Regions from separate parts of the Homo sapiens genome. Here regions 1, 2 and 3 are each linked to region 4. The links come from fine-mapping of genetic effects on gene expression. A gene starts in region 4. Each other region holds a variant in brackets. All regions are shown on one strand. Distances are between the middles of the regions.

The links. PIP is the estimated chance that this variant, and not a neighbour inherited with it, causes the effect.
Region 1: its variant is fine-mapped to the expression of ST6GALNAC2 in whole blood (INTERVAL, PIP above 0.99).
Region 2: its variant is fine-mapped to the expression of ST6GALNAC2 in blood mononuclear cells (TOPMed, PIP above 0.99).
Region 3: its variant is fine-mapped to the expression of ST6GALNAC2 in whole blood (TOPMed, PIP above 0.99).

Annotation. Positions count from the first base shown.
Region 1 is chr17:76,495,708-76,500,850 of GRCh38, forward strand. All of the region lies in intron 1 of RHBDF2 (rhomboid 5 homolog 2), which reads right to left. Among named protein-coding and RNA genes, the nearest start is that of RHBDF2, 3.1 kb to the right of the region's middle. RefSeq lists an enhancer at 4,974-5,143. The variant CCTT/C (reference allele first, on the strand shown) is at 2,848.
Region 2 is chr17:76,542,053-76,547,195 of GRCh38, forward strand. It overlaps PRCD (photoreceptor disc component), which reads left to right. Exons shown (of 5, transcript NM_001077620.3): 3 at 501-581; 4 at 977-1,069; 5 at 1,751-3,324. The coding sequence ends at 522. It also overlaps a transcript of CYGB not described here. Among named protein-coding and RNA genes, the nearest start is that of PRCD, 4.6 kb to the left of the region's middle. The variant A/G (reference allele first, on the strand shown) is at 2,995.
Region 3 is chr17:76,562,619-76,567,761 of GRCh38, forward strand. It overlaps ST6GALNAC2 (ST6 N-acetylgalactosaminide alpha-2,6-sialyltransferase 2), which reads right to left. Exons shown (of 9, transcript NM_006456.3): 8 at 4,835-4,934; 9 at 2,759-3,653. The coding sequence ends at 3,486. It overlaps SNHG16 (small nucleolar RNA host gene 16), which reads left to right. Exons shown (of 3, transcript NR_038111.1): 3 at 501-2,730. Among named protein-coding and RNA genes, the nearest start is that of SNORD1A, 3.6 kb to the left of the region's middle. RefSeq lists enhancers at 4,140-4,640, 4,641-5,141. The variant TCCCTCAGTGG/T (reference allele first, on the strand shown) is at 2,834.
Region 4 is chr17:76,582,879-76,588,021 of GRCh38, forward strand. ST6GALNAC2 (ST6 N-acetylgalactosaminide alpha-2,6-sialyltransferase 2) reads right to left here and starts at 2,982. Exons shown (of 9, transcript NM_006456.3): 1 at 2,806-2,982. The coding sequence starts at 2,930. RefSeq lists silencers at 2,739-3,078, 3,129-3,418 and enhancers at 3,287-3,968, 3,969-4,649.

The DNA.
Region 1 (5,143 bases), 87 kb before region 4:
CCTCGACACACTCAGAGCGCTTCTGGAGGCCCAGTTCTGCCTCCGGCTGCATGGAGCCCCTCAGCAGGGAGGGAAAATGCCAGGCAGACACTTCTGAGCTTGTAAACGGTCATTAAGGAACTAATAAACCTGATTTCCCAGAACGTTGCCCTGGGGCTCCCTGCTTCCCAGGGAAGAGGCTGGCCCTAGCCCCAGTGACTGCCAGGGTTTCAGGACACGGGGACACCAGGTTGCTTGTCCCAAGCAGGCCTGCAAAGCCACGTGCTTATGGCCCACACCTTGCTTCGGGGCAGCGTGGAGCTCTCTTGCTGAGGAATGAGGAGGAATAAGGGGCCAGAGATGGGACTCAAACCTGCCTGGGCCACCTACCTGCTGGGAGACTTTGGGCAAGTGGGTGCTGCAGAGCCTGCCTCCTCTGCTGTGAGATGGGTTGATGCCCCACCACGGAGGGAGCCAGGGAAGATGACAGCAGATATGAATGTACAGTGCCTGGCACACACCCAACGCCCAGTTGGAAGTTTCTTTTATTCCTGGCTGAGCTCTGCCACCATCGCTCACTTAGTCTCTATCTGAGCCACGAGCCCCACAGGGGACAGATCTCTATTCGACAGGTGGGGAAACTGAGGCTCAGAGAGATGAAGTCACCTGTCCAAGGTCCCACAGTTAGGGAGGTGGTGGGGCTACAACCCCAGCCAGGGTCCCGCGCTCTTAACCTCCACACTCTGCAGCCTCTTGCCACCCTGGAACTGGTGAGGGGCAGGAGAAAAAGAACGGGTGAGGACTCTGAGTGTTTGGGGTGCTGGAGTGAGTCCTGCATGCAAAGGCCTTTGATTCATGAAGAAGGGACAGCACCTAACTGCCTGGGCAGCACTGCTCAGCTTGCAAAGGACTTTTACAGACATGATCTCATTTAGTTGAGGCTAAGGGTGAGAGGCGGCTGTCATCATCCTCACGGGCTGGCAAGGTCAAAAGGGGCTTAGGCCAGGGTTCAAAGTCCTGTTCCCACTCCAAACCCCACAGCAGATCCTCAACCCTCCTCTTCCAGATCTCTTTTTTTTTTCTTTTATTTTTTGAGACGGAGTCTCGCTCTGCTGCCCAGGCTGGAGTGCAGTAGGGTGATCTCGGCTCACTGTAAGCTCTGCCTTCTGGGTTCAAGCGATTCTCCTGCCTCAGCCTCCTGAGTAGCTGGGACTACAGGTGCATGCCACCACACCTGGCTAATTTTTTTGTATTTTTAGTAGAGACGGGGTTTCACCGTATTAGCCAGGATGGTCCCGATCTCCTGACCTTGTGACTGCCTGCTTCAGCCTCCCAAAGTGCTGGGATTACAGGCGTGAGCCACCGCGCCTGGCCCCAGATCTTCTTATGACTAAATGGAGCTGACAACCTGGGGAGACCCACTGGGAGAGGGAAAAGGGTTTCTTGCCAGAGACCGGGGCAGGAAGCCATCCCTGCACCACCTGCTGGCACAGGGTTGGCGGCCACACGGGGGAGGCAGAGGAGAAAACCAAGACTTGAGGCAGCTTTACCCTGCTCCCAGCCCCAGGAACCTACGCCAGGGAAAGCACAGCTGAGGGGCACCAACTCCATGAGCTGCCCCCCACCCCACTGTCAGTGACACACACACACTGGCAGGCCAGGAAAACCCCTGGGCAGAGGTCAGCAGTTCATGCCCAGATGGAAACCCACCCTCACTTCCCTTGGCCAGCAAGGCACTGAGGTCCCCCTACCCCAGACACAGCCACTCCTACAGAATAACAATAACAACAGTGCCACTGCTCCATATGCGTGTTCCCATCTAGTCCTTGACAGCCCACGAGGCAGGGCCTCGGCCATCTCCCAAGTCTGTGCCATGGACCGGCAGCCACGCCCCTACCTGAAGCCACCCTAACACCATTATCACGATGGCTCCCCGCACTGCTCCTGCCATGGCCGGGCACTGCACTGCAGGCTGCACACCTTTACCACGGGAGTCCTCACCTCACACAACCCTCCAGGTAGATTACTGTTAGTGAGCCCACTGTGCAGCTGGGGAAACTGAGGCACAGACTAATTAAGTGAACTCATCCTACTGAGCACACACATGGACGACTGTGCCCAGCAGCCCCTGGACCTTGGCCCAGCTCCTGAAGTTTGGAATCCTCCTCCATCCTTTTCTGCTGGTCACAAGGTTCCCCTCACACTCCAAACAGTGTCTCTGGCCCACCTCCTGCACTGCCCACTTGGCTGAAACCACTTTCCTGCAGGAGCCGGGCACTGGGGCTGGAACTGCCTTCCAGTAGCTTTTGGACCACAAACAACTCCCAGCTGGGCGCCCGGATACATTTGCTGAAGGAGGGGCCGTGGACACGGTGGCGCTTTGTACTTCCCGGAAGATGTGTTTTTCCTTACACCCATCCTAGGTCTCCTGGGAGGCAAAACGACGTTCCGGGCAGGCTTGGTTTCCCTGTGAAGCCGCCCGTGCCCTGAGAGCTGTCCCTGCCTAGCCACCACCACCGCCGAGGTCAGCCTGTACTTGGGCAGGCGCAGACGTCCCCGCCACTCCTCCCCCAGCCTGGCTCAGCTGGATAGGAAACTGGGAGCCGCTTCCGACAGCCAGCGCTTCCACAGCCGGTGCAGATGCCTGAGCTCACTCTGGAAATCCCCTGGGGCAGATGGGGCAGCGCCGAGGCCTGCTCCAGAGTGCGAGGCACAGAGATCTGAGGAGAGTGTGGAGGGGGAGAGGCAGCCAGGAGGGCACACGTCTTCCCTGTGCTGTGCCAGCGGCAGGCGGGGGCCAGGCCCAAAGGGAAGCACCAGCCAGCTGAGCCATGCCACTCGCACACTCACGGGCAGGCGTGCACAGCT[CCTT/C]GACTTCTGCTGTCATCTGTCACCTTGTCTGGGGCAGAGTTTACACAGCAAGGACAGAAACCTTGGTGGAGAGGCCACCACAGTATCCAGAGCTGAGGCCACAGGAAAAACAGCACCACTGACCCCAGAGCAGGACTCGGGCCCCAAGTGCGTCACCCAAAGCATTTGTAGTGTGATTTATTCCTCCTCTTATAGGAACAAAAGTCCCCCTCCTGGGCTGGAGAGAAAGAGAGTGTGTGTGTGTGTGTGTGTGTGTGTGTGTGTGTGAGTCTGTGTGTGTCTGTGTGTTTGTGTGTGTCTCTGTGTGTCTGTTTGTGTGTGTCTGTGTGTGTGTGTGGTTACACCAGGTACAGACAGGTAGGAGTCACTGAGGGTTTGTTCGTGGGGCTCTTGGGTGGGGCCTGAGGGTGGGCAACTGGGTTCACACCCGAGCTCCACTGCCGACTTCCTGAACAACTTTGTACAAGCCTGGGTGCTCAGCCCTGTCCCTTGAGAGGCTCACAGCAATGGAGGCCACTTTTGTTTTTTGTGCAAATGAAAAGGTGGGAGTTTCACTTCAGCCTTTTACAGTCAAGAGACCAAAAAAACAAAAACAAAAACAAAACAAAACAAAAAAAACAAAAGCCACCAACACCAACAAAAAGAACCCAAGCTCGAAACCTCCACCAGGGTTCCCAGGCAAGAAGGCTGGGTCCAGAAGTGAACAGGATGGGTATAATGGCTACTGCAAGAAAACAGGGAGGGAGGGCAGCGAGGTGGCCCCAGCTCCTGGGCATGGACGTGGCTGCTTCATCCGATCCTCTCCCACCGTGCCAGCCACCCCTCCTTGTTGCCAGAAAACTGGAAGTACATTCCTCCAGCCCAATACAAACAACTCTGAGTCATCCCTACTGGGGGGCCACCTGGCCTGTGCTTTGATGTCTCCCATCTCTCACCTCTGCTCAGCTAACACCATGGGCAGGGGTGCCTCCACCCCATCAGCAGCTGGGCCCACTCCAGGGCTCGTCAGCTAACCCAGGGTGCCCTCTTTATTGCAGGACAAAAGCAGCCTGGGGACCCCCCAGGAATTAGGAGCCCTGATACTCCTTGGATGTCACTTTCAAAAGGTGTACATAATTGGAGGAGTTAGGTGTGAGTTCAGAAGGGAAAATTCCAGCAGGTCACATGGTATCAGGCAACCATGCCAGCTTCAGCAATCCAGCTTTGGGAAAATCTATGGGAAGAGAGCTCGCCCTCTGCCCACCCTCCCAGCCCAGGGATATTTGAGCTCAAGGGCTGCCTCAGCCCAGCCTTCCTGGGAGATTGCCCTGGGGTTAAGCACCCCAGGCCTGGGCTGCAAGGGGGTCCTCTGTTCCCAACCTCTCCCCCACAGCACCTAGACCAGCTTCCTGCAGGGCCAGTGGAGATTGGGAAAGGCGGTGTCTCATGGCACCAAAGGAAGACTCTTGTGAGGGGAATAAGTGCCCTCACACTGCCTTACCCCTCATCTCATTCAGGTTTATTCCAAGTTCCTCCCCTAACCACTCTGGAAAACTGAGGTAGTTTCCCCAGTGAGGGAGCATCATTGAGAAGGAACCTGATGGACCAGCTGCTGCGCAGGGTTTCTCAGCCTCAGCACAGCCCAACACCTTGGGCTGGATAATTCCTCGTTATGTGGGCTGTTCCGTGCCCTGAAGATGTCTGGTAGCGTCCCTGGCCTCTACCCACTACCTGCCAGTAACAACAACACTCACTTCCCCTCCCAAGTGTGTGACACCCAAAATGACTCCAACATTGCCAAATATCCCATGGCAGGCAAAGTCGCCCCTGGTTGAGAACCACAGCTCTAAAACACGCCTCCCTTTCCACTGCCTGCCCTACGGACAGTGAGGGTCGAATAAGGCAGATGCTGGTCTCATTATATTACCAGCAAATGGCACACACTGGGGGCCTGATGCCAGCCGCCCAGGCAACAGCAGCCTCTCCCCAAGTGGGGTCAGCTCCCCACCGCCTTCTGCTCCTCAGACACACCCGCTGCCACCCTCTCAGTAGCTCCAACCCTAGAGCCCCCTCCGTTAATCTTTCATGGAATGGGGCAGGGCCAAAACCTAGGCTTCCTTTGCGCCCTGGCGTGGGAGTGGGGCGGGGTCTGTACCCTAGGGAACTTATCCGTCTCTATCCCAATGCCCTGGGGGAACATCCGAGGGGCCAAACAGGTAAAAGGCAAGCCCAGGGCCAACCTTCCCCAGCCCCTCCATCCAGAAGTCAGGACTCCTGGGTCCAATTTCTGAGCTCCGGTCCAGCCCTGCTGTGT
Region 2 (5,143 bases), 41 kb before region 4:
TTAATCTTTGGTTAATGGTTGTGGAAACTGAGGGACAGGGAGATTTAGGTGGCTTGCTCCAGATCATCTATCTCATTTGTGGCTAATGCGGGATGCTCAGGCCCGATTCCAGGCAGGGTCTCTTCTACATGAAATGGGCCTGGACCTCCTGGCAGGAGAGAAAAGGCCAAATCTGAGGACCATCTGGCCAGGCCTGGCCTGGCGTGACTTAGCCAGAAGGAAGCAGTTGCCTATTAACTCCTTGGGACCCAGTTAACTGGAAAAATTGGTCTGACATCGAGGAACCACCTGCCGATGGTGGCTGCCGTGGAAGGCTGGCAGTGGGGGTGACATTTCTACTCTCCAGTCACACTGTCCTAAATGCCAACTGATTCCTTAGGTGGTCCTGCCCCTCAATATTGGGGTGAATTGATAGGGATGGGAGGAGGAGGAAGAGGAGAGTCAGAAACATGGGAAGGTCGTGCCCTTCAATCCTGACCCCAGTGCTTTCCTCTGTTTAGGGAGAAAGAACCTCTGAAGTAAGCCCTCACCTCTGCAGGTGGGGCTCAGGCCCAGAGACTGGGATCAGCTGGCTCAGGCAGGTAGGGCAGGGCTGGGAGCCGGGGAGGGCAGAGGGCAAGGCTTGGGACAGGCAGGAAGCAACAGGCAAGTCCCGGCCATGTGGGAGGATAGCAGGCAGTGTTCAGCTCTTGCCACTGATGGAGGTTCAAAGTAGGCGGATGGACTCATGCCTTTGGCTGCTACCTTGAGCCTGTTGTGGTCCGGGCCATGGGGCAAGGATGAGTTTGAAGAGAACCAGGTGTAGTTTGACCACATTTTCTAGGCTTGGGGATGGCGAGGTGGTCGTGCTGGGGCATGAGGGCAGTGTCGGAGGACGCCCAAGGGAGAGGCGGTGCTCGGAAACATCCACTCTGAAATGCGAGTCCCATCCCCAGGTGTGGGAGAAGTGCTGATCTGCTCTGGTTTTCTGTTTCAGCTCAGGTCCTGGTTCGTCCCCTAGCCCAGGAGGATGCTGTGGGAGCTGCAGCAGCGGCAAGAGGGAGAATGGGGGGAAGCAGCACTAGAGAAGGTAGACGCCTCCCTCTCAGCCCGGGACCTGCCAGTCTCCCCTTCCCCCAGGCCCTGGGTGTGGGCTCCTGAGCAGGACCTGGCTGGGCCTGGCAGAAAGAGCAGACGTGCTCGCTGCTCTCGGACGGGCTTCCTTCCCTCTGAGTTCCTGAGGCTCCTCTGAGGGACTGCTGAGCCTGAGAAAGCCTAGGATGAGGGACTTGCTGGGTCCACCAGGCTAATTCTGGGGCAGCCAGCAGCCCAGGCAAGAGGCAGGAATAAGTAAGGAGTGAGGAGACCCCAGAAGCAAGGGACGGCTGATAGCTCACATTTACTAAGCAAGGGCTTCCATTCATTCTGTAATTTAATCTTCAGTCACCCACAGAGCCTGGTAATGTTATTATCCACAATTTCTAAATGGGGAAACACAGAGACAGGTTAAATAATTTGCCCAACATCACCTAGCTAGGAAGTGGAGGCTCCCAGGCTCACACTGGAGCTGCAGAGCCCACGCTCCTACCCACCATGGCAGGCGGCCTCCCCCTGGAACCTAACAGTTTGCAGGGGTTGGGGGTGGTTTGCTGGCCTGGCCAACTGCCTGTCAGCCCAGGAGCTATTCTGTTAAGCCGCCACTTGTGGTCCGAGGTGCTGGTGTCGGTTTGCCACAGTGGCACTCGCTTTTGTGTCATTTGCCTTTCCCCAGTTCCCAGAGCTCATCCTGTCACTGGCTGCTCTGCTGAAATTATCAATAAGAAATGCCAGTTGGATCTGTGACATGTCTGCCTGCAGCTGGATGGGAGCAACGGACAGCTTGTCCTCCGAATGTGTTTTCTGTATGTGTGCAAGCGCGTGTGTTCCAAACGGGCAGTAGCGTGTGGGAAGGAAAAAGCCTGACACTTGTTTTTATCAATTTGCTGATGCTCAGTCCCGGCGGCTGCCTCCTTTGCCCCCAGCTGCTCTGCCATTTCTCTCTTTTCAATCCTGCATGATCCTGAGCAGAGATAAAAGCAGATTTCCGCTTCTGCTCCCAGATCCAGGAGCAGACCCTGCAGGCAGCTGCTCCTGATGTCTCACAGCTATTAGTCTTCAAAAACCCCCCGTGCCTCTGTGCACACGCGTCTCTCCTCCCCAGCCAGCCCCCCTCCCAGCCCAGCGGCGATGTCTCTGCCTGGCTGGCCCGTGCCCTTGACTTCCAGGCAGTAGAAGATGGAGTTCTCTAGACAGCAGCACTTCAGCCGCCACTCTGCCTCTGAAGGGAAGGAAGGGAAAGGGTGAGGGATGCCGCAGAGCAGAGGGAACCGCTGGGGAGGCGCTCAGGGTGGGGGAGGAGGTGCACCCCGCTGGGGAGGGCCTGCTGGTACCTCGGGGAGCCTGGCTGGGGTGTGTGCGAAGGCAGTTCTGTGGGAGCCTCTCAAAGTAGGGCAGGCAGGAGGCAGGGGGAAAGTCACACTAGGGAAGGAGCCTGCAGAGGCAAAGCCAGAGCGCCAGCCTGACCCAGGCCGTGAGCCCGTGATCGCCTGTCTCAGCTCCTGTCAGCCTGTCTCTCTCTTTGGAGGCATCGGCCTTCCTGGTGACAGGCCTGTCAGGCTGAGGGCCAGAGGGCACTGTTCCCGGGACCCAGTCTGTGTTCCCCGATCCTATCTGCATTTATTCTCTATTTGCCATGTTCCTGTCACCTCATCCTTGCTGCCATTTCCGAGTTGCTCATCTCCTTCCACTGGTCTGAGGAATTGTCAGGCCAAGGTCATGGAGCTGGCTCACGGCCCAGACGCACTTCCCCAGGGCAGCGCCCCTCCACGCCACTGTTCCGAGAACCTGCGCAGGAGGTGGTGGCTGCTCCAGGGATCCATCCAGAGGAAGGGCGGGAAAAAGAGAGGAAGGGGCTGCTGGCGGCCAGCGGGGCTGTGGCTGCCTGGGCTTGGAGGTTGCCTGGGCAGCTGGGGTGCC[A/G]TGTGGGCCGGGTGGGGGGGCTGTCTCCCCCAGGGAGCAGGCTGGCTTTGGTGGGAGCAGATTGTGTTTACACCTTCCCCGCACACCCAGCCCACGCTCGCCTCTTATTCCCGGGGCCTCTCCCACCCCTGGGCTCTCTGCGCAGTCTGCACATTTGCAGCTCCTGCTGCAGAAAGTTACCTCTCTCAGCCTAGAGCTCCCCACAGAAGGCTCCTGGGACCCGGGTGCCCCTTCCTTGGCCCACTGGCTCCCATCACAGGGCTTAGTGTGAAGCTCAGGGCAAGGGTGGACCTTTAAATGGGGGAATTAAATCCTGACTATGACACTGTCCCCACTGAGGCTGAGTCCTTTTTCATCCCTTTCCTTGCAAAGAGCCGCTGCTTGGGAATGGGAGCAGGAGTGCTCAGGGGCTTGGGAGAGGGCAGATAAAGGGCAGCTAGAGAGGGAGAGCTGAGCCAAAGGGTGGGGTCCCTTCTGGTCTAGGGTGCTGGCTACTGTGAAATAACAAGAGTCCAAGAGCAAGGTGTCCAGAGTCAGAGCTCCTGGGTTTGAACCTTGTTCCACCAGCACATCCTACCTCTGTGGCCTGGGTAAGTTTCTGAACACCTCTGTGCCTCAGTTTCTTTAGCTGTAGGATGGAGATCCTACTGGTATCTGTCTCTTAGAGTTGTAAGGGTTGATTAGATAACGTGTGGAAGATGCTTAGCATGTTGGGTAAGTGTCCCATATATGTGAGCTGGCACAATCCGGTTTGAACTGTAAATTACTGAACAGTGGTAGATTCAGGACGGCTAGAGTTCCTCACATCCTCACTCTCTGGTCCTTCCTGCCGTCTCTCCACATACACAGAGCTGGGCGACCGGTAGTTCTGCAACAGATCAGAGGATGGCAGAGGGTGGCATTGCTGGGGTGGGGAAGCCCCCTGTAAGCCTGTACTGGAGAAGACCACCACTGCCTCTCTGTGCCCAGAACCATGTCCCAACCTCCAGTGGTGACCTCGACCTGGACAGCGCCACTCCCAGCTGGCTCTGCTTCCGGAATGAACCTCAGCTCCTTGACAAGACGGGAGGCGCTGCCCTGCTGTGGTACCTTCCTCCGTGTGAATGCTAATATCTCTGCTGGGGGAGCCTGAGTGACGGGGAAAGGCTGCTTGGAGCTGCAGGGCGGCTGAGGGCAGCAACCAGGAGCAGGGAGGTGCTGCTCCTGCAACTGAGGCTCAGAGCGGCTGCCAGTCTCTCCTGGAGACTGGAGCATGACCAGGGAACTAATGAGGCGGTGGGGGTGTGGTGGGAGCCAGGGAAGTAGCCACTGCAGCTGTGGCTGTCCACTGTCACCCTGGGGTGTAGATGTCACCTTGGGGAGTACCCACCCATTCCAAGTGTGCGGTTGTGTGTGTGTGTGGTTTGTGTGTGTGTGTGTGTGTGTGCGCGCAGTCCTGGGCAAGGGCAAACAGTACAGGTGGTGGGCCAAGACTAGATGGGTAGGGCACAGTGCCCACTATGAGACAGGCACAATGGCGAGAGAGCAAACCCTGCTGGTTCCTCAGGCTCCCGTAGCCTCTCTGTGGGGGGCCTCACTGTTAGGAAGAAGCCCAAGACCTAGAGCTAGAGGAAGATAATGCTTCTTTGTGAACCTCAGAAGAACAGTTTGGTTCGCACGGAAGCTTATGTTAACATAATGATGATACTAATCGTATGATTAATAACCACTAACATGCATTGGGCGCTTACTATGTGCTAGGCACTGTGCCAGCTGCTGTATTTTACGCACTGTTTCATTTATGCGGCAGGAACTGTTATCATTTATCCAATAAGGAAAGTGAGGTTCACAGAACTTGCTCAAGGTCACTCATAGCTGGCAGTGAAGCCAGGACCTGAGCCTGGGAAATCTGACACCAAAGCTTGGGATAGAGGGGGCCCAAGTCTCGAGTTGGGGGCCGTGAGGAAATTTTGATTGTGACCTGTCTACAAGGCACAAGGAATGGAGCTGTGGTCCCGCCCAGCCTGCCTTTGCAAGTGGGCTGGTGTTGGCCAGGGTCATTGCCACCAATCTGTCTTCAGGAACTCACATTCAAGGGCAGACCAGACTCTAGGCCCTGAGAGGCTGGTTCTTGCCTGCCAGGTGAGGGGGAGAGGAGAGCTGCCCCTTT
Region 3 (5,143 bases), 20 kb before region 4:
TGTGTGCAAACTCTTTGTATTTAAGGTTGTGTTTTTGCTGGACACCAAAGAAGCTGTATTCTGGGTGAGATTTAATGAGCCTAAAAACTGGCCCCAGTAGTTTACAGCCTGCAAGTAAAACAGTGAAAAGGGTAGCTTATCAAGTGGTTATTGTCTGCTGAGTGGACTTGACTACAGAACTCAAGTAAACCATAAGATTTGACTTGAAATGTTTCTATCCAGAGGGAGTGCTTTCTGATAGTTGTTTACTGGCCTCTTACCAGAAACTGCTCCCTCAGAGATACTGTCTCCTTAAAATGAGTCATCCTGGATCTCCACCAGCCTGCACCAAAATGGTGTGATAGTGCCCCGTTACGCTCCCCCAACGCGCACATGCCTGCCGGTGGTGAGAGTGAGTGCTCTTGGACTGACTGCCTGTTCTCCCAAATTAGTTGTTATATAGCATTCAGTTTTGAGTCACTTCCTTGGCTGTTACTTCAAATTATTCTTCTGTTTTATAGGTTAGCTCCCAGCGATGCCAGATGGGATCAGCACAGCCCTGCCTCTGCTGCTAATTGTTCCTCTAAAGTAATCGCCATGCGTTCTTTGGGCTTCATCTTTAAAGGAATGAAGCAACTGAGATTATTCTGGAAAACCTTTTGGCAGTTAGTGAAATTAGAGTACAACTAAGAACATTTTCAGACCTCCACTGTGGATGACCTGGGTATAATCTCACAAATCGATGGGACTGCAAGGATTGTAAACTGAAATGAACATGATTATACTCTGTTGGAAGAGCCTAAGAGGAAACTGATGCCATGAGTTTCAGAGAGTAATGCTTAACCCCAGTTACACAGGATGCCGTCTTGTGTTTCCTCTTGTTTAGTTACCCACTACAGTGATTTTGTGATCTGCTAATGGGTTGCCACCCACAACCATTGCTTTAGCACTTTTACTTCAAATCAATGAAGGATTGATAAAAGTTCTCCTGGTGTCTCCGCAGAGTGCCTTCCAGGAACAGATCTTTGCATAGAATATCAGTGGTTTCCTTTTTTGTTTCAAATAGTGGTCAGAAAATACCCAGTGTTGACTCACCAAGGCAATCAGCTTCCTTTTTCCCTTTTTTTGTTTTTTTTTTAACATTTTATATTTTTGCTTTATTTTATTTTATTTTATTTTATTTTATTTTATTTTATTTTATTTTTTGAGACGGAGTTCCACTCTGTCGCCAGGCTGGAGTGAAGTGGTACAATCTTGGCTCACTGCAACCTCCACCTCCCGGGTTCAAGCAATTCTCCTGGCTCAGCCTCCTGAGTGCTGGGACTACAGGCGCGTACCTTCTTTAGTAGAGACTGGGTTTCACCATGTTGGCCAGGATGGTCTCTATCTCCTGACCTTGTGATCTGCCTGCCTCAGCTTCCCAAAGTGCTGAGATGACAGGTGTGAGCCATCAGACCCAGCATTTTTTTTTTTAATTTAAATTTAAATTTTTTTTCATTTTTTTGAGAGGTTTTTTTTGTTTTGTTTTGTTGTTGTTGTTGTTGTTGTTTTTGAGACAGTCTTGCTCTGTCACCCAGGCTGGGAGTGCAGTGGCATGATCTCTGCAACCTCTACCTCCCAGGTTCAAGCAATTCTTGTGCCTCAGCCTCCCAAGTAACTGGGACTACAGGTGCACGCTACCACACCTGGCTGATTTTTTTTGTTTTAGTAGAGACAGGGTTTCAACCATGTTGCCCAGGTTGGTCTCAAACTCCTGAGCTCAGGCAATCCACCCGCCTTGGCCTCCCAAAGTGCTAGGATTACAGGTGTGAGCCACCACACCCAGCTATTTTTTCTTTCGTTTTTTAATTTTAAAGTTGGGGGGGGGTCTCAATTTGTTACCCTGGCTGGTCTCGAACTCCCGGACTTAAGCGATCCTCTGGCTCCAAGCCCACTACCAGTCTCAGGTTTCTTTACTAAAAGATCACTACCTTTTTTTCTCTTATCTGCTGCCATGTGAGATGTGGCTTTCACCTTCCGCCATGATTGTGAGGCCTTCCCAGCCATGTAGAACTGTAAGTCCAATAAACCTCTTTTGTAAATTAAAAAAAAAAAATCACTATTTAAGATACTAGGATGGATTGTGACTGTTGAGGAGTACTTACATATCCTACATTTGACTACATTATTTCCAAACCAAGTATTCCATCCAAAGGAACATACTGCTATCATAGAGACCAAGGAGGGACTGTTTAAGGTTGCCAAGGTGAAGCGAGCTGAGAGGCTTTGTCCTCGTGCCAGTAACTCTGAAATCTCTCTTAATTCCTGCTGTCCAGGCAGCAGAATGCCATGGTTTCCCCAAGTAGGTAGCTGCTTTAGCAGTTAAAGCCCAAATGTCTGTTCTGTTGATCAGAGGTCTCTGAATTTCTGAAGTGGTGTTTCGTTTCTGGTGACTGAGTTAATCCTTTACAATCCCTCTTGTAAAGTGTGCTAATAGAAAGAATCCACCTTTCAAAGCTGCAGAACCAGACCGTGCCCTAAATTGACCAACGTAACTGATGTGCCTCAGGAAGTCTCTTGCCAGCTGTCCCTGTGAAGACCCCCCTCCTCCCCCCCAGCTGCTGCCTTGCACACTGAAGCATCTCAGACTGTGCAAAGCCGTGTAGTCATCAAGACAGTAAATCCCAGGGCTTGGTTAAGTGCTGTGTGATAACTTGTTTGGATGAGACTTAACTTAAAACCACTTACAATAAACTTGGGAAACTACCGTCAGCTGAGTTCAAATTTACTGACGCCATGATATGAGGATGAAGGTTTATTACCTGGTGACATCATCCTGTTGGTGACAAGGTGGTGATACATCTCTAATGGGACT[TCCCTCAGTGG/T]CAGGCAGGCTGCCAAGCAACTAACCCCCATCAAGTGCCAGACCCTCCCAGTGTTCTGAGAGTCATCTCCATGCTAAACAGCCTGCGTTTTATATGATTTCTCTACCCAGCCAAAAAAAAAAAAATGGTCCATCATGTACGCAGTTATCTAGTCTTAAGTTATATTCTGGCTTTTTTCTCCCACTTTATTATGGAGCAGAAGTAAGCCTATCATGTTCTTAGAAAGGCTCTTAAGAGGTGTCCTGGAGTCCTTGAATCACTTTAGCATCTGGGGTAGGATGTGCCACCAGGAGGATTTGGGCTGGAGCGTGTGTGTTTGCCTTTGACCTGGACTGCTGTCTGATCTTGCTGAACACTCCACCGACATTTCCTAAAGTTGCTCAGTGCCAATCCAGCAAAGCAGTCCATTTTCCCTTGGCCAAGATTGAGATGTATTGTTTTAGATACAGAAGAGTTCTTGGATGAGCCAAGGACAAGCTGGGGTGTCCTATATTGAACAGACCTCGATGAAAATCTTGAATTCACCCCAGTGCCCTCTGTTGGCAAGGGAAGGTGAAGATTGAAAAGTTAAAAAAGCTTTTGGCCACTTGAGAGGATCAGGGCCGCAACTCTTGAAGAAGCAAAGGGCTCAGTGCATTGGGGTCAGCGCTGGTACAGCTGAAGGATGCCGGCCTTGTGCAGGTCCCTCCACAGGGCAGCTTCCAGGGACAGATCGTGGTTTGCATAAAATATCAATGGCTTCATTTTTCGTTCGAAATAGTGGTCGGAAAATTTCCAGTAGTTGCTTGTGATGAATCCATAGGCACTGACCTGGGCAAGGATAGTCGCTGGATTAGTATTTGTTGAGCGTCTAGTGTGTACAGACACTTGGGTGAAGTGACATGAGTTTAGAAAGGTGTCCGTCTGCTGAGGTGAGGATAATGGTCTAGGGCTTATTCCCACTTAGCAAGTGGGGAGATGGATTCAGGGGTGACTCACTGTGTCCCCACTTGGCATAGCTGGTGATTGCCAGAGCTGGATTTGGAACTCAAGGGTGGAGGCAAAAGCCCATTACTACTCTCTCCATCCTAACTGGGGACTGCAGTCAAGACACTCCTGCATCAGAATAGGAAAAGGCCCTGTGTGGTGGCTCACGCCTGTAATCCCAACACTGGGAAGCTGAGGTGGGAGGATCACTTGAGCTTGGAAGTTTGAGACCAGCCTGGGCAACATGGTAAGACCCTGTCTCTACAAAAAGTAAAAAAAAAAAAAAAGAGCTGGGCGTGGCAGTACATGCCTGTGATCCCAGCTACCCAGCTACTTGGGAAGCTGAGGCAGGAGGATCATCACACCACTGCACTTAAGCCTGGGTGACAGAGTTGAGACCCTGTCTCAAAAAAGAGGGAAAAGATTTAGGTGTGAGTCGTGGAGAGGCATTTGGCCCCCAGCTCTCCATACCAGCTTTAGCATGGGTCACGGCCTCTCCTTGAAAGCTGCTGCTTGGCCCCTGCCTCCATGAGCTTCACGTGGGTCATATCCCATCAGGAATGACTCTTAACGGTGATTTCAAAGTAGTTGCATGTGGGAGGCTAAACCTGCTGCCCTACCCCAGCTCTAGGATGTCCCCATAAAAGAATGTCCCTATTTGGCCCAGTATGTTGAGGACTTTGGCTTTCACAAGGGCAGTTTGATGATTTGAGCCTTAAATACCATACTGAGTGGCTGCCTTGGAGAAGAGTGAAAGAAGGAAGCCTGGGGCAGGTGTCAGGAGCCAAGGCAAGCCTGAGGCAGGTGTCCGGAGCCAAGGCAAGGCTGGCCCAGGACCTGTCCTTCAAAGGCCCCAGGGTTGTGGGCAAGGAAGTGAGCAGTACCAGCAGCACTCTTGGAACTGGGGATTCCACGAACAGAGGCCAAGAGTCCCAGCTCCGAGGTAAGGGATATCAGGGGATCCTGTTGGGTTCTGTTATCCTGTGTTCTGCCGGCATGGGCTTCTGGAAGAGAAGGCCTCTTACCTGGTCACAGGTATGCAAAGCTGTCAGCAGCATGAGAGCCCCGGTACTAGGCATATATAGGTCTCCAAAATGTGTGTTAATCAACTTTGATTTCAAGAACCTGGAAGCAAAAAGAGACATTTCAGCTCACTAGCTTGATGGCTATCATCACACTTCACAACTACACATTCAAATAGGTGGGAAAACTTCAAAAACTGAGGGCCTTCTACTCCAGTCAGTTCTTTATTCGGTCCAAGTGGACTAAATACAAAGATCTTTGAGACCTTAGGTAAGGTTGGGGGAGGGGGTGGTGAGAAAGGAACCACAGGT
Region 4 (5,143 bases):
CCCCGCATTGGGGTTTAAGCTACAGTGCAAATACAGAGAAACAGCAGGAAAGGGCCAGGTGCTTGAGTCATACTACATTTTGAAAAGAGGAAAGATCTTTTTTTTAAAAAAGCATTGTTGCATTATAATAGAAGTATAGTAAACTTCATACTTAAAGTCTATTAGATACCCTGAAACAATTTTAATTTGTGTTTTTTAAAAAATGTATTACTCGGGGCTGGGCGCGGTGGCTCACGCCTATAATCCCAGCACTTTGGGAGGCCCAGGTGGACGGATCACGAGGTCAGGAGATCGAGACCATCCTGGCTAACACGGTGAAAACCTGTCTGTACTAAAACATACAAAAAATCAGCTGGGCATGGTGGCGGGCACCTGTAGACCCAGCTACTCGGGAGGCTGAGGTAGGAGAATGGCATGAACCCGGGAGACAGAGCTTGCAGTGAGCCGAGATGGGGCCACTGCACTCCAGCCTGGGCGACAGAGGGAGACTCTGTCCCAAAAAAAAAAAGAAGATAATGTATTACTTGGGAGGCTGAGGTGGGAGAATCATTTTAGCTCAGGAGGTGGAGGTTACAGTGAGCCAAGATAGACCCACTGTACTGCAAGCCTGGGTGACAGAGTGAGACTGTCCCCAAAAGATTATTTTTATAAGAAAAGGAATTCATTTCTTACAGTTATGGAGGCTGGGAAGTCCAAGGTCGAGGAACCACATTTGGTGAAGGCCTTTTTTTTTTTTTTTTCTTTTCTGCTCCTTGTGGAGCAGGGCTACCCCATAGGCAGTGGTCCAGGGCAGCCAGAGGGCCTTGGTGTTGGTGGGGCAGGACGTCACATGCAGAGTGGGGCTGAGTTGCTAGATCAGGTCTCTTCCTTTTTGTAAAATTATTTTTAATTGGCACATACTTGCACATATGTATAGGGTACAGTGTGATATTTCTTTTTTTTTTTTTTGAGATGGAGTCTCGCTCTGTCACCAGGCTGGAGTGCAGTGGCGCGATCTTGGCTCACTGCAAGCTCCACCTCCCAGGTTCACGCCATTCTCCTGCCTCAGCCTCCCGAGTAGCTGGGACTACAGGTGCCCGCCACCACGCCCAGCTAATTTTTTGTATTTTTTAGTAGAGACGGGGTTTCACCGTGTTAGCCAGGTGAAAGCCAGGTCAGGAGGATCTCCTGACCTCGTGATCCGCCTGCCTCGGCCTCCCAAAATGCTGAGACTACAGGCGTGAGCCACCGCGCCCGGCCACAGTGTGATATTTCAATACGTGTATGTAATGTGTAATAATCAAACCAGCTAATTAGCATATCCATCACCTCGAACTTTTTTTTTTTTTTCTGGAGACAGGACCTTGCTGTATTGCCCAGGCTGGAGTGCAGTGGCGCGATCACAGCTCACTGCAGCCTCGACCTCCCAGACTCAAGGGATCTTCTTGGTCAGCTCCCGGAATAGATAGATGGAAGCACAGGCATGCACCACCATCCCCGGATAAGTTTTGTATTTTTGGTAGAGACGAGGTTTCGCCATGTTGCCCAGGCTTATATCAAACATGTATTATTTCTTTGCATTGAGATACTTTGTGTTTTAAACATCTTTACATAAAAGTGACAAGGATTCCTTTTCTTTTGAGACAGGGTCTCTCTCTGTCAACCAGGCTGGAATGCAGTAGTGCAATCACAGCTCACAGCCTCGAATTCCTGGCCTCAAGCTATCCTCCCACCTCCGCCTCCCAGAGTGCTGGGACTACAGGCGTTAAGTCACCGTGGCGGGGCAAGCACCCTTTGTTCTAAGAGTGCTGGACTCCTGATCACTGGCAAGCTGTTTCACATTGTTCTGCAACTTTTGGTGTATCCTTTGACAGCATCTGTGGAGACCAGATACTTATTTTGTTTTCATCCCGTTAGCCCCCCAGCAAGGTTGGTAGGGGGTGCGCAGATGGAAAAGCTCCAGGAAGGGAAAGGCTGGGGCTGGAGGCCTCTCCCTGAGGCTGCCGGGCCCTTCCCTCCTCCCAAACCCAGACTTCGCACGGCTTGGTCCGCCTTTCTTAAGCTAAGCGAAATCGTTTTGCGGCTTCTTCAGTCACCGGAACCACCACCTGCTAGAGGCCGGCTCCCAGGTTCTCCTCGTGGGACACCCAGGAAAGTGCCTAGGGAGGAGGAGGGAGTGGAGCGCAGGACGCGGCGCGGGGAGGAGAACGCGGATGGAGCCAGGAGTCACCCCTCTTTCCCTCGGGCGCCCGCCTCTTCGCGGATCGCGCCCGCACTGGGCTTATCCAGACACGGCGAGCGGAAGCCGGGGAGAAGGGAGCGGGCGCGGGGCGGACAGAGACCGCAGCGGGCGGGAAAGGCGACTGGCCGCGGCCCGACGGAGGGTCCCCGCGAAGTTGGAAACCGGAGACTTGGGCCCCTGCCCAAAAAGCAGAATCTGACGTTACCGAGGGAGAGTTCCCGACAAAAAAGGAAGTTTTTATCTGCTTCGGGGACCCAGCCAGATTTCGACAATAGAAAGTGTACTTATCAGGCCGGGGAGGACTTCACCAACAAGGGGCACCGGGGCGGGTCGCCAGTGCACAGGGGCGAGGTCTTCCTTGGACCCAGGCAAAGGCCGCGGGGTCCGGGCAGCGCGAGGTCAAGGCTGGGAGAGGGTTCTGGCGACAAAGGGCCGCGGCCGAGTCCTCGCTGAGAGCTGCCCCAGAGGGGTCCACGCGGAGGTTGGGCTGAGGGCTGCGGGCCGCCGGGGAGCCCTGGGCTGGGGACCCTCCCCGCGCCCTGGTCGCCCCTGCGCCCTCCCGCTCTGCGCTCGGCAGCCCCTACCTGGCTCCGGCCGCTGGCCCCGGGTACCGCTGCACCGCCGAGAAGTACAGGGCAAAGAGGAGCCCCGAGCAGGCAGCCGTGAGCAGGAGCAGCAGCCAGAAGAACGACCCGCGCGGGAGCCCCATACAGCCCCGGCCCGCGAGCGCCCCGTCCGCTGACGTCCCAGGCAGAAGGGAGAGAACCGGGTGGGCCGGGTGGCACTTGCGGAGGCGGCCGTCTTGCCCTGCCCCGCCCTGCCCGCCGGGTGCCTGCGGCGCCTGCCCGCCCGGCAGCTCCCTCTCGGCCCCGGCTGAGTGGCCAGAGGCTGCCGCACCCTCGGGAGCTGGGCGGCGGGTCCCCCGGGGCTGGAGTGTCGTCCCGGCGCCCAGAGCGCGCGCTCCTTTGGCCCTGCCCCCTGCCCGGGGGACTTCGGCAGCGGCCACTCCTGCCACTGCGCTCTCTCCAGAGCCCAGCCCCGGGAGGCCGCCAGTCTCGGGTTGGGCAGGGCGCTTTCCTCGCGCCGTCCGGGGCTAGCTAGGCGCGGGTAGACGCCGCCACCTGCTGCGCTGGCTGCGCTCTGCCCTCTGCGGGCCCGGCACTCGGCCTCTAGACTCTGTGGCGGGTGGGCGGCGGCCGGGAGGAGATGTGCCCGGCTCCCTCCAAAGGACCCTCAGATCTGTCAGTCTGCGGACGCCAGGACAGCTGGGAGGGGGCGGGCAGGGTGGAGGAGCAAAACCCGACAGCTCAGTCTCTGGGCTGGCGGTAGAGGGGGGAAAAGGGGGTGAGGTGGGGAGCTTGCCGTGATGGGTTTCGTGGGGGAGCTAAGGCTGTCAGCGCTTATTTGGTAACCATCCAGGGTGGCCAGTCCCCTCAATCGCATTGAGTTCCTTTCACAGAACGAGGCCAGTCAGAGAGACCACCTGAAATGTTCAGCACAACGGGTTCCCAAACTTATTGGCACCAGGGACTGGTTTCCTGGAAGACAATTTTTCCACGGAGGGGGGTGGGGGTGGGGGGGTTGGGGATGAAACTGTTCCACCTCAGATCATCAGGCATGAGTTAAGATGCTCTCATAAGGAGCCCGCAACCTAGATCCCTGGCATGCGCATTTCACAAAAGGGTTCGCACTCCTTTGAGACTCTAATGCCGAGGCTGATCTGAAGGAGGCGGAGCTCAGGCGGTAATGCTCCTTCCCCCTCCACTCACCTCCTGCTGCGATGCCCTGTTCCTAACAGGTCTCGGACCAGGCTTGGGATTGGGGACCCCTGGTCTAGCAGGCTCCAGCATCAGAAAGGGCTGGGAAGCTCAGCACCCGTGCTCTCTAAGTGGAACACTCCCTGGCAGTGAGTGATGGATGAGATGGGTGTGCTTCAGTGGCCACTGTTCGGCAAGCTGTGACATGCGGCAGGCTGTGACATGCCCCAGACTCCCAACTGTCAGCAGGCTGCAAGGATGAGAGGGACCTAGGCTACCGTGTCACGGGCCTTTGGCTCTAATCTGTTCTTCATGTATCCGAGGAAGTCTGGGTGCAGCAACAGGTACCTGTCTGATTGCAAGGCTTCCCGAAAACCTCCCAGGGCCTGGGCCTGTGGTCAGGAATGGCCATTCAGTCCATCCAGTCTCAGTACTCCTACCAAGTCAGGGTCACTGGAGGTCACTCACATTGGGCCAGTTCTTTCCTTCACCCCAAGACTGCTCAGCAGAGCCAGACTCATCTTGCTACCCCGCAGATGGGCACTACTTGGAATTTATGGTGTCACGACTTTCATTTCAATCTTTATGGGTTTACTTGTCAAAATTCCTGTAGATGTTACTTATCCCCTGATCACTGGCTTCTCACATTTCCTCAGACCTTCTCTCTGTGCCCATAAATATCCCTCCTAGCCCTTGCTCTCAGTAAGTGCCTTACCCTCTACTTCATGGAGAAAAGGAGAATCATTCATTAGTAATTTATTCAACTTCCACTTACAAACCTACAAACTTGGCCCCCACACACAGCCCAGCCTCTCCCTGCCGGGACTCTAGTCTTTTTTTTTTTTTTTTTTTTTGAAACAGCCTGTTACCCAGGCTGGAGTGCAGAGGCGTGATCTCGGCTCACTGCAACTTCCACCTCCCAGGTTCAAGCGATTCTCCTGCCTCAGCCTCCCCAGTAGCTGGGATTACAGGAGTGCACCCCCATGCCCAGCTTTTTTTTTTTGTATTTTTAGTAGGGATGGGGGCTTTACCACGTTGGCCAGGCTGGTCTCAAACTCCTGACCTCAGGTGATCTGCCCACCTTGGCCTCCCAAACTGCTGGGATTACATGTGCGAGCCACTGCGCCAGGCCTCAGGACTCCAGTCTTAAGAGCTGGGGAGAGGG